Linked DNA regions of Homo sapiens: regions 1 and 3 are each linked to region 2. The links come from fine-mapping of genetic effects on gene expression. A gene starts in region 2. Each other region holds a variant in brackets. All regions are shown on one strand. Distances are from middle to middle.

The links. PIP is the estimated chance that this variant, and not a neighbour inherited with it, causes the effect. A credible set is the group of variants that fine-mapping cannot tell apart.
Region 1: its variant is the best candidate, but not a certain one, in a credible set for the expression of ITGA11 in monocytes after LPS (Quach 2016, PIP 0.85).
Region 3: its variant is the best candidate, but not a certain one, in a credible set for the expression of ITGA11 in cerebellar hemisphere (GTEx, PIP 0.74).

The regions. Positions count from the first base shown.
Region 1 is chr15:68,341,376-68,347,348 of GRCh38, reverse strand. The region is part of intron 10 of ITGA11 (integrin subunit alpha 11); the gene reads left to right. Among named protein-coding and RNA genes, the nearest start is that of FEM1B, 67 kb to the right of the region's middle. RefSeq lists an enhancer at 4,895-5,490. The variant T/C (reference allele first, on the strand shown) is at 3,098.
Region 2 is chr15:68,429,318-68,435,290 of GRCh38, reverse strand. ITGA11 (integrin subunit alpha 11) reads left to right here and starts at 3,128. Exons shown (of 30, transcript NM_001004439.2): 1 at 3,128-3,276. The coding sequence starts at 3,225. RefSeq lists a silencer at 1,127-1,421 and an enhancer at 3,968-4,727.
Region 3 is chr15:68,333,119-68,339,091 of GRCh38, reverse strand. It overlaps ITGA11 (integrin subunit alpha 11), which reads left to right. Exons shown (of 30, transcript NM_001004439.2): 12 at 3,247-3,395. Among named protein-coding and RNA genes, the nearest start is that of FEM1B, 58 kb to the right of the region's middle. The variant G/A (reference allele first, on the strand shown) is at 3,287.

The sequences.
Region 1 (5,973 bases), 88 kb after region 2:
TTTAGGTGGTTGGATCAGCCACTCTTTTCAGTGCCTTCTCTGTGCTGGGTCCTGAGCCTGATGCCAGGAGAATCAGAGGCGGGAGCCCTGCCCTCAAGGAGCTCAGAGTCTGAGGGTAAAGAGCCCAGCACAGCGAGGTGAGAGCATCCATTCATGTGGGGGCCAGCAGAGTCATGTGCTCTGGCAGGACCAGCCCTGGTCTCCAGACTCTGACGTCAGAGCTGATTAGAAAACGCAACAAGGAAATGCAATTTAATTAAATCTACATGCATTTGTCAAGTGCCACTAAAGTGCTGAAAGGACCCGGAAATGATTCTTGCCACCAGGAGTCAACTTGTAAACAATCCTGAACGGCAGTTCTTAGCTTTGAGAGTAGGATGAAAGAAACTATAGATGCCTTCTAGGTAAAAGTGTACAATACCTGGAGGCCCCCCTCATCCGAAGATCCCCTGTGAAGACCCCCTGCTCAATGCAGGGGATAGGGGGAGACATGCACATGTCTAATGTTAACCAAAGCAACGTGATCAAGGTAGTATAGAAGGAAGGGCCTCCACTAAAAGAAGGGGTGGTCAGGGAAAGATCCGGAGAGGGCTTGGCACTCGAGCTGCCCCTAAAGGACACGGATTTCAGCAGTCCTGGGTGGCAGTAAGCAGGAGAACAGAGAGCATTATGGACACACACTGGGTGACATCCTGGCACAGCTCAGAGGTCAGCCCTGGTGTTGGGGACAGAAGAGAAAATGAATGTCCCAATGTTTCCTTTGTCCATTCACAGCCATTTTTTGAGTATCTTCATGTGTGTCAGACTCTGTACCAGGTACATTAAAGAAACATTTCAGCTGACAGCCATTCATAGCCTAGCTGGGGAGAAAGACTCTTAAATAATCAGCTCACTGTCCTGCTTCTAAAATCATGATCTGTGTCTGCCTAGGAATCGGGGAATCTAAAAAGAGGAGGACATTAAAATGGGCTTCAGGGACTCAGGGAAGCTTGAGCTGAGCCTTGAAAATGGCTCCAGCAGTTCAGTGTTGAGCAAGGTGAGTCCTTGCAGGATCAACAGGTTCCCCAGCTTCCAGAGTGAGGAGACCCAGGAGCTCACAGCCTCAGCACAAGACTTCGGTCACGTCAAGGTCATGACTGCCATGTGCAGCCCCTTCCACATATGCTCAACTTCTCTGTTCCCCAGGCAGAGGGATGCAGCTTGCCTCTCCCATATACCCTAGTTCTTCCATCACCCCGACACAGGGACCTAGCTTGACTCTTCCTCATACCCTAGTTCTTCCATCACCCCTGATATTTTCATCTAATTTGACTTTAAGAGAGACAACGATCGCATTTGAATCTGAGACTCTTTAGTATTAAAAACAAAAACAAAAACAAAAACCTTTCAAATGCACAGGAATGGTGCAAGCATGATGGGCTGGCTGGCTCTGTGACCGGGCACTGGGGGCTATTTTAGAGCACAGACGTCTTTCAGTGCCAGGCCGCTGATGCCATCATGAATGGCCACAGCCATCCTGTCCCCAGGAGTCCAACTCCTCAGCTCTCAGGGTCAGTTAGGCCTCTCTGGGGATCAGGGCTATTGGGTCCAGCCTTTCCACTTTGCCCTGAGCATGTCTGTCTCCCAGGCAAGCCCCCAGGCTTCCTCCCTGCCAGAAGCGCCACAGATGGTCTCAAACAGCTGCTGCCTGAAGAGATACTGAAGGAGCCTGAGGGGCTTCCCCGGGCCTGTTTAGTTCTGGTAGAAGGAGAGATCCCTAGTAGAATGTTCTCAGATGGCAGAAGAAAGGCCCGGCTCCTCCTTGCTTGGTTTGCTGCCGTCTTAATGAGCAAGGAAATCAGTCTTTGAATTAGCAAGGGTAAAAACAACAGGAGAGAGAAGGGACCAGAGCCCAGGGTACAGGGGAGACCCCAAGACATCACCTGGACACCCACAGAGTCCAGGGCCCCAAAACATTACATTCCAGGCTGAAGGCAAAACGTCTGAGCCATTGGGAAAACCCGGGTAGCTGGAAACCCTAGTCTTGATTTGCAGAAAGGGGAAAGAAAATATTCCAAAAATTATCATCAGGAAGGCTAGCTGTGGATCCCTGGTCAGACTTTAGAATACATTTTTAAGCTAATGCTTCCATTAGCATTTGGAAATGAACGCAAAGGTCACTAAGAGCCAGAGTGGCTTCCATTAGTGCTGGCTGTCTGCTGAGGTAGTGAACTACCTGTCAAGCTGGGTAATCAAGCAGGAGCTGCAACAATCTGCCAGAAAGTTGGGAGAAGGGATTCACACCTCCAGAGGGGGACTAGACTCTAAGACTCTGTAATCCCATGGGCCTTGAGGGGAAGATGCAGAGGGAGAAAGAGGACTACAAAGAATTGATGGGCATGGGTGACGGTGTGCAGAGGGCTCAGCTGGAGGGATTTCGCATCCGCCTTCCTACACTGGAATCCTAAATCTGCCCTAACTCCAAAAGTTTACAGAAGGAAGCAGTTTTATCAGGGTAGATCTTGTCTACGCAGAAACCTTGGTGACTCACCCAAGGTGGGAAGAGATCCTTTTTCTCTTGTACCTAAAGGTGAGGTCACTTACCCTGCACGTGATGACCTAACAGGACCAGTGCTCAGTTCTGTTATGAAGCAGGTCAAGTTCAGCTGAGCCCTGTGTGGGAGGGTCCTCTGCAGCACCATCACCCATGCGCATCAATTATTTGTAGTCCTCTTTCTCCCTCCGCTTCTTCCCCTCAAGGCCCATGGGATTACCGAGTCTTCGAGTCTAGTCCCCCTCTGGAGGTATAAACATCCCAGATGAGCTACCCCAGCCACCCTCCTGCCTCTTCAGCCTGTGCCCATCCCACAGGCCCTCCTGGGATTGAGGTCTAGACAATGAAGGGTATTGGCTATTCGCTAAGGTTCTTAGTGGCTGAAGCTTTAGAGGTGTAATCTTCCCTAAGGGTTTCGCATTTGAACTGGTTTTGCGTATCTGATTCAACAAAAAATGAGAGAAGCTGATGGATAATGGTGAATTGAGGAGTTGACCTGTGGAAGCTGTAAACCCCTCCTGTGCCCCCCTAGACCTAAACAATAGACTCCTTCACCTGCCAGGC[T/C]GGGCGGGCAGTCAAGATGGTCTCCTGGCCCTCTCCCCAGGGGTCCAGGACACAGCAGCTGAGGTCCTCTGCCACGCTGGTCCCAAGGGTTTGCGAGTTGTCTCCTGGTGGCAGGAATCATTTCTGGTTCATTCGGGTCCTCCTAAGCCTGGCCCCATATCCTCAGGCTGTGCCCTAGTGCCCACTCCTGGGTCTCTTTCCCAGGGCCTCTGACAGGAGGCAACCAACTCTGATGGGGAATGAGCAGTCAGTGTAGCACGCCCAGGTCCCCGCGGCCCCTTCTGCTCACCCCAGCTGCCGGATTCCAGCACCGCACATGGTGAGGGCCCCTCCTCCACAGAAAGGCAGAGGGGCTGTTTCTGGGCCTTTCCTGCCCACACCCCATTTAAGCCTCCTGGCCATTCATCCCTTCCTCAGGTCCACTTCAAGCTTGTTGAAACAAGCCTTCTAAGACTCCAAGCCATTAGTGAAAAAGCATAATCCACCCTCTAAATGGTGTATGTGCCTTAGAAGGGGCTCCTGGGAACAGAGCCTCACCCCTCTACAGCCACTCTGACGTGGACTCTCGGGAGTTTGGCGGGGGAGGACAGCCTCGGTGTCCTCTAGGGGTCTCCCATCACACCAGCCCACAGCACCACCAGCGACTACCTCCACCTGGCTCCATCGTCTTGCCTCACAAAAGCCAAAAAGAGCTAGAAGGAAGAATTACTGGCACCTGGTATCCTAATTCCGTGACTACTGGGCAAGAGGGAAGCACTGTCTGGCATGTGGGCTCAGAAAAATCATTTGACCTGTCTGAGCTTGTCTTAGTAGATGTCTGAAGAATATTTGTGAAATCGAATCAAGGCTTGGAACTGGAAGTGTTCGTTTTGAGACTTACTAATAAATCAAGTAAGATTTTCTTAAAAGCCTTTCCTAACCCTACTATGTACTCACCCCCTCTTCTCAGTTGTTCACCTGCTCCTGGGACTGCCAAAATAACCGGTCCCTGACTCCATCAGAGCACTTCTCACATGCTACCGCAATGACGAACGTGACTGTGACACCTGATTCTTCGACTCCCGACCACTGGGGAGATGCTTACAGATGGATTCATGAACGAGAAGAGCTACCATGTACCAAGTACTCACTGGCTGCCAAGTGCCCTGCTAAGAATTAAAAATGCTGATTTTCACAACAGAACTATTTTACAGCTGAGGAACTCAAGGTTCAGAGAGAGAGAGAGAGAGAGAGAGAGAGAGAGAGAGAGAGAGAAGAACTTGCCCAGGGTCACACAGCTAGAAGCTCTGAGCTGGAAGTGGAACTCAGAAGCCTCTGACTCCAGAACTCCTTCCTGCTCTCACCACCACGCCAGGGATCCTCCACCTCTGTCCTAGTGACATCTTGGGCTGGATAACTCTGCCGTAAGGGACCATCTGGTGCATTGTAGGATGGTTAGCAGCATCTCTGGCCTCGACTCACTAGACACCAGTAGCACCCCCACCACTACCCCCAGCTGTAACAAGCAAATATCACCTAGGGCACAAACCTGCCCCGGCTGAGCAGCACTGCCCTAGACCATGCTGCCTTCACTGCCGGGGCTGTGGTCCAACCCTGGCTTGGGACATGGACTGGCCGGAACACAGGGCTTTGAGAGATATGGTCACACACCCTGGGAGCACGCAGCTCAGCTGGGAAGGCAAGACTGCCTCAGAGGCCAGGTCAGAGGGCAGCTGAGAGCTGAGTTGGCAGGGTCTGGTGGAGGGAGCTACACACACTGCAGGTGCTAGGGCTACAACGTCCTTTGGGAAGGCACAGCGTGGCCTCAGACCTTCTGACAGCTGCCAAGCCTGAGACCTCATGTCTACACAGAACGCCAGGAAAATCAGCTTGTGGGGAAGGTCCCCTCGTGCAAGGCCACCCAGGCACACCCTGGTAATATCTGGTGGGAGCCCAGGTGGCCCCACATAGGAAAGGAGGCTATAAAACAGGAAGCCAGTGCGAGGCCTGCAGAGCGGGGGACACAGCTCTTCCCGGGAATGCCCACTGTTTGTTTGCCAGCTGGGCCCACGTGCCTGACTTCCCCTATTAAGGATTTGGTCCCTTCTCTTTTTTTGCCCCACCCTTCTAGATTTTTCTAAACTCAAAATGTCTGGGCTTCCCCAGCTGGGAAGAGATTGTGACATACTAAGGCTTGCTTCAGTGGCCTTAACCTGTCTACTCCTCACAGTGTCCCCATCCTCAGAAGACTCTCCCTGGCCACAACAAATTCACTCTCAGGAAAGGGCCTCCCACTGCAGGCCCAAGACTGCAGCTGCTGTCAGGGTTAAAATGGGATGAGGTGGGAGACTGTAAGCGATCGCCTGGCCAAGTGTTGCCAAATCCAGAAGTCATGACGGAATTCCCCAAGCTCCCATAGGGAGAATCAGTGTGAGGGGTCTCCCCGGCTGAATCCCACGCCCCTGGGCCAAGCCAGCCCTTCTCAGTACATCACAGGGGCTCCCTGTCATCTGCAGAGCCAGAAATTCATCTTCAAAGGCCTGTCCATGAAGCACAGAAGCCAGGTCTGCAGTTACAAACTTGGACTCAACAGGCAGAGAGAGGGAGGAAAGCAAGGAAGAAAGTCAGACCCCAAATACTGCGCCCCTCCCTCAGGAGGGTTCAGGTGGAAAATGGAAAGCTGGACCCACAGCAGGCTTTGGGGAAACAGATAGATGTTTTCTTCTCTGCCCTACTTACCTCTCTGGTCAAAGCCCCAGCCCTGCCTCTGACTTGCTGTGTGACCTTGGGCAAGTCCCTTCCCCCTCTGAACCTCAACGGCTCATTTGTCAAGTGCAAATAATGAACATCTGTCCTTCTGATTTCACAGGGCCTCTGGGCCCAAATGGGCAGCCAGA
Region 2 (5,973 bases):
AACTGTGGAAAATAGTTTGGCAGTTCCTCAAATGATTAAACATAAAATTACTATATGATCAGCAATTCCACTCCTAGGTGTATACCCAAGAGAACTGAAAACATACATTCATACAAAAACTTGTATGAACATTATGCTAACATTATGCTATGTTAATGGATGGTAGAACTGCTACCAGCAAGACCGGCAGCACAAGTGTTCATAGCCACATTATTCACAATAACCTAAAGTGGAAACACCTAAATAAGCCTCACCTGATGAATGGATAAACAAAAGGGGGTAGATCCATACAATGGAATGTTACTTGGCAATAAAAAGGAATGAAATACTGATACATGTTGCAACATGGATGAACCTTGGAAACATCATGCTAAGGGAAAGAAGCCAGACTCAAAAGGTCACGTATTATATGATTTCATTTATATGCAACGTCCAGAATAGGCAAATCCATAGAAATAGATTTGTGGTTGCCAGGGACTGGTGGGAAGGAATGGGGAGTGACTGCTCATGGTTACAGGGCTTCTTTTTGGGGTGATAAAAATATTGTGAAATTAGTGAGGATGATTTTACAATCTTGTGAATATACTAACAACTACTGGATTCTATGGCACAGTTTATGGCATGTGAATAAATAAATCAGTTAAAACACTGTGTACATGTAAAGAGTTATTATTATTATTCAACAGAAATCACAGCTTTCATAAAGCCCTTCACCAAATTCTCTGCAGTTCTCCAGCCTTAGAGTCTGGATTGTGCACTTGTCACTCATATGCTGCTGCCTTGGGTGTGATTTAAATAATGTTTAATAGTGATGAAATAATAAATGGTTTTAAATAGATTAATAAATAACAGATTATGATTAAATAAATACATGGTTATGTCTTGTCTCCTCAGCTCCATCACCAGCTGCCCTAGTGTGGGGTTCTCCTTCCGTGTGTCCTACAGAGCACAGGGGCACAGTAGGCACTCTGTAGGATCTGTTGAAAGAACAAATGAGGGCACACCTCTCCCCTCACCCTCCCACATTACACAAAAGCACACAGAGTGATCCTCAGGACCCCCATTCCCCAGGCACCTGTGAGGACGGTGAAGGTGAATGAATGGTAGAATTGTTACCAGCGAGACCAGCAGCAGCGCAGCTAGGACAGCCACTACAGTGCGCCCCTTCAGCAAGCAGCATGCAGACTCTGAGCACAAGCTGCAGACCACCCACACGTCAGAGGTGCCTGGGGCACCCACCAGCATGCCCTGATCCTTGGGGAATTTGCATTCTTTGCACGTGCTCCAGGTCGTTCTGATGCACCTGGAGATTTGTGCAAGGCAGGAATGTGGGCTGCAGCCCATTCCCTAGCTGTAGGGGTGTTCTACATTCAACTCAGCTGGCTTAAACTCAACTCAGTGAAGAGGACTCACTGTCGTATAACTGATAAGTCCCAAGGGGAGTGGGGTTAAGGGGTGGCTTCATTCAGGAGTTCAACAAGATCCTCCATTCTGTCATCCAGTGTCCACCTCATCTCAAGGCCAGATCCTCCTTCCCTACCCTGACCCTGTCAACTTCTGAGCCTACAAAGTTCCTTGTCCCAGGCTGGGAGAGGAGGCAGGAGTGGGAGAGGTGAGGAGAGAGAGTTAGTTCATTTGTTTGTTTGTTCTAGGGGCTCTTTTAGAAAGGCAAGAAAGCTTGCTTCCCAAAAAAACTTTTTCTTTTGTCATATTGCCCTTTCTGAAACGATGGGCTGGGAAGGGCAACATACTGATTCATTTCAGCCTGAACCGCATGCCTCCTTACACACACACACACACACACACACACACCAGGGACGGAATCACCTTCCCCGAGTCTGTGGCTGAATGGGTGAGGTGAAGATGAAGTAAAACCCAGATAGCCAACCGAAAGATAGTGAGGTTGGGAGACGAGCACAAGCCCACTTCACTTATGTGAACCTGGGTCTTCTCAAACTCCAGCTCATCTTCAGGGGCCCTGACTGAACATCACCTCCTCTGGGAAGCCCTTCCAATACCTCCCAGATAGAAAACTCTATCCTTTGTGCACCCACACACCACCTGTACTCACCCATCCATCCACCCGCCCACCTACTTTGTTCCTGGGTGTTAGGGGCTGAGTACTCCATTGTGAACCAGAGATTTCTACCCTGATGGTGTTTTCAGTCTGCACAGGAGAGAAAAGTTAAATGATCACACCAATTGATGCCTTGCTTCTCTACTAAGCACAATGAAGAGAAATGAGGGAGAGCGGGCTGGGGAATATCAGCATGTGTCTGGGACTCAACCTGGTGGGGACGGGAAGAGGGGGTGAAGGAAGCCTTTCCTGAGAAAGTGGGGGAAGGGCGCTCTGCTGTGGCTTTCCCTGCATCTTGGCCTTCCTACCCTCTGCCTCGGCTTCCTCCATTGCTGGAAAAGCCTCCACAAGCGCGGTGGAGGTCCGGGGCCTGGATTTAAAGCTCTTGAGATAAATGTGCATTGAATTTAACTACCAGTGATTAGAAGAGGGAAAGAAGGTGGCAGGGTTACAAAGAAGAGCTTCACGTTAGGTTAAGAGGGGGTGCACGGTGTCCCTGGGTGCTTTGGAATGCCTCAGGTGTGGAGGCTCAGGGAGTGGCAGTGGAGGCGAATCTGCATGTATTCCAGGGTCAGAAGAAACACTAGCCTCTACAATTCAAGCCGCAGGGTGCAGGGAGACACGGGGATGTCTTAGAATGGACCTTTGAGGGACATCCACTCACTTGGCCAAGGGAGACCTGCGTTCCAGCAGGTGTTCCTGAGCCAGCTTGGGTACCCTCTGAGTTTTGTGAATCTCTTTTCACTGGGAAATGGGAATAAAAACCACTTTTCCTGAACAGAATCTGACTGAGGCGGTGCGGTGCTACACTGGTGAGGGGGTTCCCAGGAGCGGTTCTCTGGAGTTTTCTCCAGAGGCTGACGTGGGGTTGGCGGAGAAGGAGCGCTGCACAGGCGCGTCGAGGCAGCGCGCCGCCTGCCCAGGTGGCAGAGCGGCCGAGACTGGCCCAGAGCCCGAGCCGGAGTGGTGTCCGGCGCCCCTCCCCTCCGCTCGAGCCCTCCCACTTCCTCTGAATGAGCCGCAGCTGTCAGGGAGCCCGGCGCCCCGCGCAGTGCAGGCTGCAGGCGCCGCGCCGAGGAGGCTGCCGCTCTGGCTTGCCGCCCCCCGCCGCCGCTGCACACCGGACCCAGCCGCCGTGCCGCGGGCCATGGACCTGCCCAGGGGCCTGGTGGTGGCCTGGGCGCTCAGCCTGTGGCCAGGTAGGTGCCCACCCTCTGCCTCCCCTTGCCTCTCGGAGTCCCTCCCTGGGCCCTCGGGGCTTGGATCCAGCGGCCAGGATCGGGACGCGACCCTCCTCCCAGGGTCAGACCTCAGCTGCTCTTGGGGACGTGGGTCCCCCAGGGACTGGCCCCAGTCTAGCGGTTCAGTCAAGTTTCGCTAAAGAGGGAGGTGCGAAGGCTATTGAAAGCCGGGACTCTTTGGTGTGTTTGGGAAGAGTTGAAGAGGCTTGAGTTGAAAAGCTCCCAGATCTGGTGGCCCTCCTGGGCGCCTTAGGTGCCTCCAAGGCCCATGCCGGGGTTCCCGCACGGCTGCCAGGGGCACTCGGGTGTCCCGGGAGCGCCGAGGGCGCACGGCCCCGGCTGGGGAAGGGAATCAGCGCCAAGAGAGTGTGCCCTGGCTGCCCTCCTGCCTGGCTCCGGGGAAGCATCTCAAAGTTTGGAGAGCCGGGCGCGGCGGCCCCGGAGGGCTGAAGGGTGGGGGTGAGGGCTGCGCAGAGTGCCTCCGGCCAAAGACAGAGCAAAGCCCCGGGGCGATGGCCGGTAGGCGGGGGCTAGCTCTCGTCTGCCCGGCCAGCAGCGGCGGGACACAGTCGCGCAGCGCAGGACCCCCGAAACGTTACCTGACACCCGGGGTAGGGACCCGGCATTGCCTCCCAACCCGCGCTCGGAATTATGCAATTATTCAATAATCTGGGGAAAGCCGCCGTCGCCTAGACGCGCGCCGCCGCCTAATGCACTCCAGGTGTCGGGGCGCGGCAGGAACCTCCGGCCCGAGGGGCGCGCGGCTGGGAGCGGGAAGCCAGCCCTGAGCTCTCCGCCCTAGGGTACCCTGGCCCCGGCCGTCCCACACCGGGCTCCCCGGCTCCACCCTCCACGCGGGGCGGCTGCCAGTGATGCTGTTCTGCGGAAGACGGCCAAGTGCTCCGGCAAGGGCCAGCGCCTCGGTTACTGGCCGGGTGTGGGCGCTCAACCTTGCCTCCCCTTCTGCGTGGGCTCCAGGCCCGAGCTGGGGCCAGTAGTGGGGGTCAGATGCGGTGGTAGTGGGAGAGGTGCCCTCAGGGAGCTCAGGTGGAGACCCCTATCCCGCAGCCGCTTGCCCCAGTCCCCGGGTACCACGCGAAGCAAGTCCACCCTCCTGTCGGCCTACAGAGGAGCTTCTCAGAGGGCCCATGGTTGAAAGGGCCTCTGGCTAGTGGAATCCTAGAGTCACAGTTTAAAACAATCATTGATACATTGAGTTGTGGGGGCTTGGAAGGGAGAGCAGGGGAAGAACTGCCACCAGGCCAATATGCAACTAGAAGCCAGCTGCGGGAGGAGGCCAAGCCCATTTAGGTGTGTTTAGACAGGAGGGGAGAATCTTCTCCAGGAACTGTCCTCATATCACTAGGAGATCCAGCCACAAGAAAAGAGACGCACTCCTGTGTGACTCCAGATAGGTGGCTGCATCAGAACCTTGGGAAGGAGTGGCTGCCTTAGGGGCTAGGGACAGCCTGGACCTCAGGAAGCTAAGAGCAATGGCTTTGGAATCAGACCTGGCTTCCACTTCTGGCTCTGCACCCTGCTAGCTGTTCAATCTTGGACTGGTTATGCGACCTTTCCAACAGGTTTCCTTATGTGAAGAATGGAGACACAAATTCCGTGTCCTGTAAAGTTGTCAGGATGCACTAAGGCACTGTAAGAAAGGCCCTTAACACAGGGCTGGGTGCACAGTAGGCTTTAATCAATGGTTGTTAATGTTGTTGCTACTCAAGGAGGAGGGGGCAGAGAATGACATTAAAGGACCTCTGAAGACACAGGATTTGTGACTCAGAGCTCCGCTTATATGGCGAAAACCACTCCTGAGTTATGTCTGGTCAGTTGCATTCTTGAAATATGGGATTCATTAAACATATCAATCAATGTTGGAACAATGACATCTGCTTGCAAGGAGCTGGGGGTGGGGCCCTAGCGTGTGTGCAATCTGGGTCCTGCCTGTAACTGAGAATAAGCCAAGGCCAGGGAAAGCTAAACAGAGGCACCAGGGAGTGAATGGCTTGGGGAAACCAAGGGCTGGGTGTTCAAACAAGAGAAGTTCAATTTCAGCCAGATAAGCAAGGAAGGCTTCCTGGAGGAGGAGATATCATTTGAACTGGCCCTGGAAAAGTGTGTAGAGTGTGCATGGGCCTGAAAGTGGGAATGTTCATATTTTGGAGTATTATTTTCTGAGACTAGTTAAAGAAGATGATGAATATTTTAAAACCACTCTGGTCAGTGTGGACTTTGAAGACTAGAAGGGTCTCAGGGATCATTGGGTTCACTCCTCAGGCTCCAGGACAGGACTGATGTTGATACCTCATCCATGCATCACATGAATTCAATGTGAGGATTACCAGGAAGCTTGTCTACTGGTGATGGCAGTTTGGCTGGGCAGGGAACCTGTCAGAGGCCAAGTTGAGGGTGAGACCTCAGAGCATCTACTCTCCCAGAGCTCCAGCTGCAGGCTGGACAGCGTGATGGGGTAGACAAAACTAACAGGAAAGCCTAAAAAAAAAGTAATCAAGTCCAAAGAGAGAGATCCATTGACCAGAGCTTTACAGTCATAACCTATCTGTAGGAAGGGTGATGATTCTTAGAAGCATAATCTTTGCTGAGCACCTGTTATCTGCCAGGCCCCATAAAGACACAAAGTGAGATCAG
Region 3 (5,973 bases), 96 kb after region 2:
TGTTCATAATCAAGGCAGAAGTCGCTGCCCATGAAGCACTTTGGAAGTGGATATCTAGATAGAAGCACAAATCATTGATGGTGAAGGTCCCAGCAGCGAGGCCTTAGCCTGCTGGCCAAAGTCACCTTCCAGCTCTGCAGGAGCAGTCACCTGGCCATCCCCAGGCATGTCCCATTCGCCATGGCTTGTTCCTTTCTAAAGGAAGGGCCAGAGGGGAGGGCGGCAAGGGGGGTGATGTTCAGGGTCCCCACTGTCTCTGGGTCTTTCAGAATTTCTGAACCAAATCCACTGTCTGTGAAGTTACTCCTCATTGAGGCCTCCTCGGACCCCACTCCTCCATGGACTTGGGGCCACCCAGAGTGGACAGCGAATCTGTCCATGCGTCCATCTTTCTGATGCTTCATCCCATCCCAACCTTTGTTCCTCAGCTCGTTAGCCAATACCCTGCCTATGACTCTGCCCACCCTGTGGTTACCCTGTTTTCTATCCCCAACCATGGGACCCTCAGCTGACAAAAGGGCAAAATGCTGGAATCAGGACTGTGCTAGAAAATTCAGAAATGTAGATCCCTAGAAGTTTCCCAACAGCACCTGGCCCTAGGGCCTGCGTTCCATTTAATTCGCAAGGTGTTAAACCTGAATTGCATAGCACCTGCAGTTGATGCCATCAGAGTGCCATGTTAAGTGCCGTGGTAAGCAGGACACAGCGCCTGCCCTCAAGCTGCTTCTGGGCCAGTGGGAGACACAGACATGTGCGCAGATAATTATAACACAATTGAGGTAGGAGCTCAGATAAAAGCACAAATAAAGGAGAGAAAGATTGGAGTCCTTGCCTTGGCAAATGCTCAAACACTGGGAAAGATGCTGGAAGAACAAAGGCTAGCAACCCTTTAACTAGAAACTAGAATGACTCGTGTTTTATTGTGTTTCCTCCCAAGTGTACAGCCCTGTGCTGGAAGTGAGGAAACCAAAGAAGGGGTGCAAGGTGCAGGTGCCTCGAGGCATTAAACAGCAAGGCAGATCACATCAGGGTGTCCCAGGGCCCATGAGGTTAATTCCAAGTGAGTCAGAGAAACGATGTGGTTGGCCATGGTCCAGCGAGCTGGTACACTCGGGACCTACTGTGTAGGAGCTGGAGCCTACACCAGGTCTCCACCGCAGGGGCCATTTCAAATAAGCCAAGAAGGGCCAAGAAAAGGAGGAACATGTGGGAAATACCAGGTTATTTCAGGACCCAAGAAGTAGATGAGTGTGGCTGGAGCAGGGGGCAGAAGTGGGAACATGGAGGAGAGGGAAGGTTGGGATAGACTGTAGCAGGAGGCCTCGAATGCCAGATTAAGACGTTTGAGCTTTTTCATGTTGGCAACAGGGAGCTGAACATATCTGAGTGAGAGCTCAGCAGGATGAATATCCCCCTGGCCCAGCAAAGCCACCCTGCTTCCCCTCCCAGAAGACCCTGATAGGGTAGAGCTTGGCTGATGGACACTCATGAGGCCCAGCTGTCATGCCTTAGCCACAGTCACTGCCTTGGGTGGGGGTCTTGAGGGAGTGCCTTTTCTCCTCCTCCTCCTCCGTCTAGGAGTCATCCAGTGAGAGCAGTGTCTGGGTTCTCTGCTGGGGCAGAGATGCCTGCTGGAAGATTCCTCCTGTGTTTCAAGGGAGAGGAGCCCTACAGGGGAAGGAGACCAGGAGGCCAGCTCCCAGCCTCCACTGGGGGTGCAGTATAAATTTCGGGCCATGGTCCTACCCTTTCATCAGGCCTTCAGGGAGGCTGGCCCAGCCTCAGAATGGCCCTTCCTGCTGGCCAGAGAGTTGCCTGGGTACCAAAGGTGCTGCCCACAGACAGCTGGAAGGCAGGAAGCTCTGTGAACTTTGAATGCTGACCCATGCCTGCCCAGAGGACACTTGGACCTCAAACTGCATCTCAGTGCCCCTCCTTCCAAGCAGGCCCAGAAGCCCAAGACCAACTGAGAACATTTACAGTAGTGCCACTGAGGGCTCAGCTCAGAAGAAACCTTTGCCCTACACCACAAGGCTAAGCCCACCCACCCATATATTTATGATTGCTCTAAATACATGGCCATGTTAGCCACCCCTTGTGAGGTCTTGGTATTATGGACCTGTCAAGCCTCATTTCCCAAAGTACAGCCTCAAGAGTGAAAACTGTTGTGTCTGGAACCAGAGCAGTTCACCCCCAGGCACTGAGTCAGCTCATCTGTACACCCTATAGCCACTCTAGAAGCAGCCAATGAGACCCAAGTGACAGTGTTACACACACAGATACGCAGATGCACACGCATATATGTGCACACACACACTCACACACGTGCATTGCAGGGGACATCTGTTCCCCAGAAACAGCCCAGGAACTGTCAACAAAGTCCAACACTCATCTAAAATCTGGGATCCAAGATTATCTGGCAGAAAGTGGAATTCTAGGATGCCATCGGCTTTCCACACCTGCTGGAGCCCACTTTCAGGAGAGTTGCCTGAAGTTGCTGCACATTTGCTTCCTGGGTACTGGGTGGGCGACTTGAGATTCACAGTGATCAGGCACAGCCATACCGGGAGCGGGGATTGGCAGCCTTTCCAAAAGAGCCCCTGGGGTTCCTTTTCTTTCTCTTTGGCATGCTGTATGTATGGGGCTGACAAGAGCCTAGGAGCTTCCACCTTTGAGTCTGCAAAGCTTTGGGGCTGCAAGAATCCCTGAGACCCCATGTAAATATCTGAAGCAGACCAACTCCTTCCACATTTACGGCTCACACTCTAGTCCTCAGTGAGCCACTTAGCAGGCGTTTGTGGTAATAAAGAGAACCCTGGTTAGTCTCCAAGAGTGAAGATTGGTGGGGAACCAAAACAAAGTCTCCCCAGTATTAACTGAAGTGAGGCTAGAGTCTGCCCTACTCCCCATTGCCCTCTGCTGTGCTCATGAGCAGGTGAAGGAGGGATGTGTGCATTTCAAGTTAGTCTTTTAGCAGTCCCACCTGGCTTCCTTTATTTTCTCCAGCAGGGGCTGGGGTGCAGTGAGTTCTCCCTACCCTCCAAACCCCCTTCCTGGGTCCTGCCTCTTCCAGGCCTCCCCAGCTGCCCCTAGGAATTATGGCCCTGCGTGATTGAATCTGCTCAGCTAGCCCTGAACCTACCCCATCACTGGCCCATCCTCTGGCACTGCCAAGCCATGCACCGGGCCAAGCAACGCCTGCTGAGGACACGGTGCCAAAGATCAGCCTGTTTCCTCCTGTGGCAGGGTACACAGTCACATCGGTCGTGTCCTCCAGGCAGGGGCG[G/A]GTGTACGTGGCCGGAGCCCCCCGGTTCAACCACACGGGCAAGGTCATCCTGTTCACCATGCACAACAACCGGAGCCTCACCATCCACCAGGCTATGCGGGGCCAGCAGGTAATGGAGGGGGAGCCTGGGGCCGGGATGGAGGGAAGAGGGGGCAGATCAGACAAATGGGAGGGCAGTAAATACAGGCATGCCTGGACCACTGGGTGCCCCAAAGGGCAGTCATGTTCCTCCAGCCACCTTCATGCTGCCAGGAGTGGCAGGAGTGCGCATCCACCTACAGAAGGCCCCATGGGCCCTCCAGGATGCCAGCTGCTTCCCTTTTCCTGGAATGGAAGCAATGAGGAATGGGAAGGCTGCCAATGCCATTGCCCCACAGGGAGGTGGTTGGCAACCAGACTGTGCTGCCAAGAGTCCTGTGGTGGACAATGATGAATGCAAATTGGAAAGCTATAAGAGTCATTGGTGGTGAAAACAGGGCTCCAATCCCAAGTCACTTCCAGCACAGGGGAAAACTGGGCTCCTGGGAAGCAAGGTGGCTTTCCCAGGGTTCTATGGCAAATTCATGACTGGGTCAAGCCAAGAACCCTCTTGGTGGGGCTGCCTGCATCATGCCACCTCCTGACCCCAAATAACCCCAAAATCAGGCCTGGGCTCCTCCTAACCAGCAGCATCTGTGCCCTCTCTAGGCCAGAGCTGAGTGCTGTCCAGGCCCTTCCATGTTGTCCCCAGCTCCCTGCCGGCTCTCCTGAGCCTGGGAACAGTCCTGTCTCCTGAGTCTCTGACTGCCCTTGGCTGGTCACTGTGAGAATCCGCTCCTCACCGAGTCTAACCTAAATCCCTCTCACTGCAGAGCGCCACCCTCCTGCCATTCCTCCTCCTGTCTCTTGGGTGCAGGCCATCCCAGGCAGCTCAGCTCTCACCCTCCACCCTGCCTGCCCACACTCACCCAGGGCCAGCTCTTTTGGGAATCGAGGGCTAGACCTTGAGAGCTGGAGGGAATTTGCTGATGAATTTATGACATTTTTCCTGCCCAGTTCCGCCTCCAACATCCGAAGGAGAAACCACAGTGCTGAAGGCAGCTAAATTAAGTGAATTCCAAATCGCGGTGACCCACATAGCTGAGGCCACATATTTAGACAAATTTCTCCCGCCCCCTCCCTCACTTGCTGTCTGTCCGCTTCTTAGTTACTTTATGTAGGCACATCTCTTCCCTCTCCCACCCATGTGTATTATTTCCCTTTCCTCTCTTCTAAATTTTTTATCCTTCTCCTCAGTTAAAAGCTTTTCATCCTTGAGAATAGATTTCTCCTGAAAACACGCTAAGCCAGAGATGGACGGGGTAGGCAGAATCATGAGCCAGGGTGTCAGACAGACCCCAGTTCCAACCAGCTTGGCAGTGACCAGGTGACCGGCCTTCTGACCTTGGGCAAGCAATTCTCTGAGTTTTGGTTCCTTCCCTTGAAAATGAGGATGACTCTCTCTCCTAGCAGCATGGGGCTCACATGAGCTAACCCAAGGCTATAAACCATCCCACACAGGGCTTGTCCACGAACAGGGCGCCTTCCCCTTTCCTAAGCTACCCAGTGATCCAATAAGCATTAATTAGGTACCTTCTGTGTGCCAGGCAAAGTACCCTGGCCAAGAGGGAACACAGCAGGCTCAATGCCTGCCCTCATGAGGCTCCCAGCAGAGGGAGTGGGGGCTGGTGGGAGGAGTATGGAGCTGAAGGCACATGGAAAAGGGGCAGGGAGCAGAGTGGAGAAGGTCAAGGATAGCTTCTAACAGGAAGTGACACATCAGCTGAGACTTGAGGGATGGCAGGGGATGGTCTGGGGAGGACGCAGGGGCGGGGAGTGCATGCAAGAGAAAAGCTTGTGCAGAGGGAAGCCTGGAAGCCAGCCAAGGCCTGGGGCCTTTGGAGAAGAGAAATAACTCAGTTTGGCAGGACCCGGGAGCACTGCAGTGGGAGCAGGAGCTTGTGGGGACAGAGGCTGGGGAGGGAGGCTGGTCCAGCACGGTCCTGCTAGAGAGTTTAGATACTATCCCAAAAGCAAGAGGTGGAGTGGTGTTAGAGGCCACGCCAGCTGCCATGGGGGTGGGCTGAAGGGGCCAGCCTGAGGCTGGAAGGCCCTTTAGAAGGCGCCTCACCTAGGGACGAAGCAGGGGGGAGCAGTTGGTGAATTGGCACCCACCACGTAGCACTTGCTGGCAGGTTTACGGGTGGGAGAGGTGGAGGGTGGAGTCAGGGTTTCTGGGTTTCTGATGAGGGGGTGGATGTTGCCCTCACTGAAGTGGGGAGCACTGTACCCCAAACAGAAGGGGAACACAGCAAGTGCTCAGACACTGAAAGAAATCATAATTCACCATCCACGATGCTAATGCCAGAATGATTTATAACATCAAAAATTAAAAACAGTGGCTTACACCTGTAATCCCAGCACTTTGAGAGGCTGAGGTGGGAGGATCACTGAAGCGTAGGAGTTCCAGACCAGCCTGGGCAACATAGTGAGACCCCATCTCTACAAATAATTTTTTAAAACAGCCAGGAGCGGTGGTAAGTGCCTGTGGTCCCAGCTACTCAGGAGGCTGAGATGGGAGGATCACTTGAACCCAGGAGTTTGAGGCTACAGTGAGCCAAGATTGCACCATTGCACTCCAGTCTGGGTGATGGAGCAAAACCTTGCCT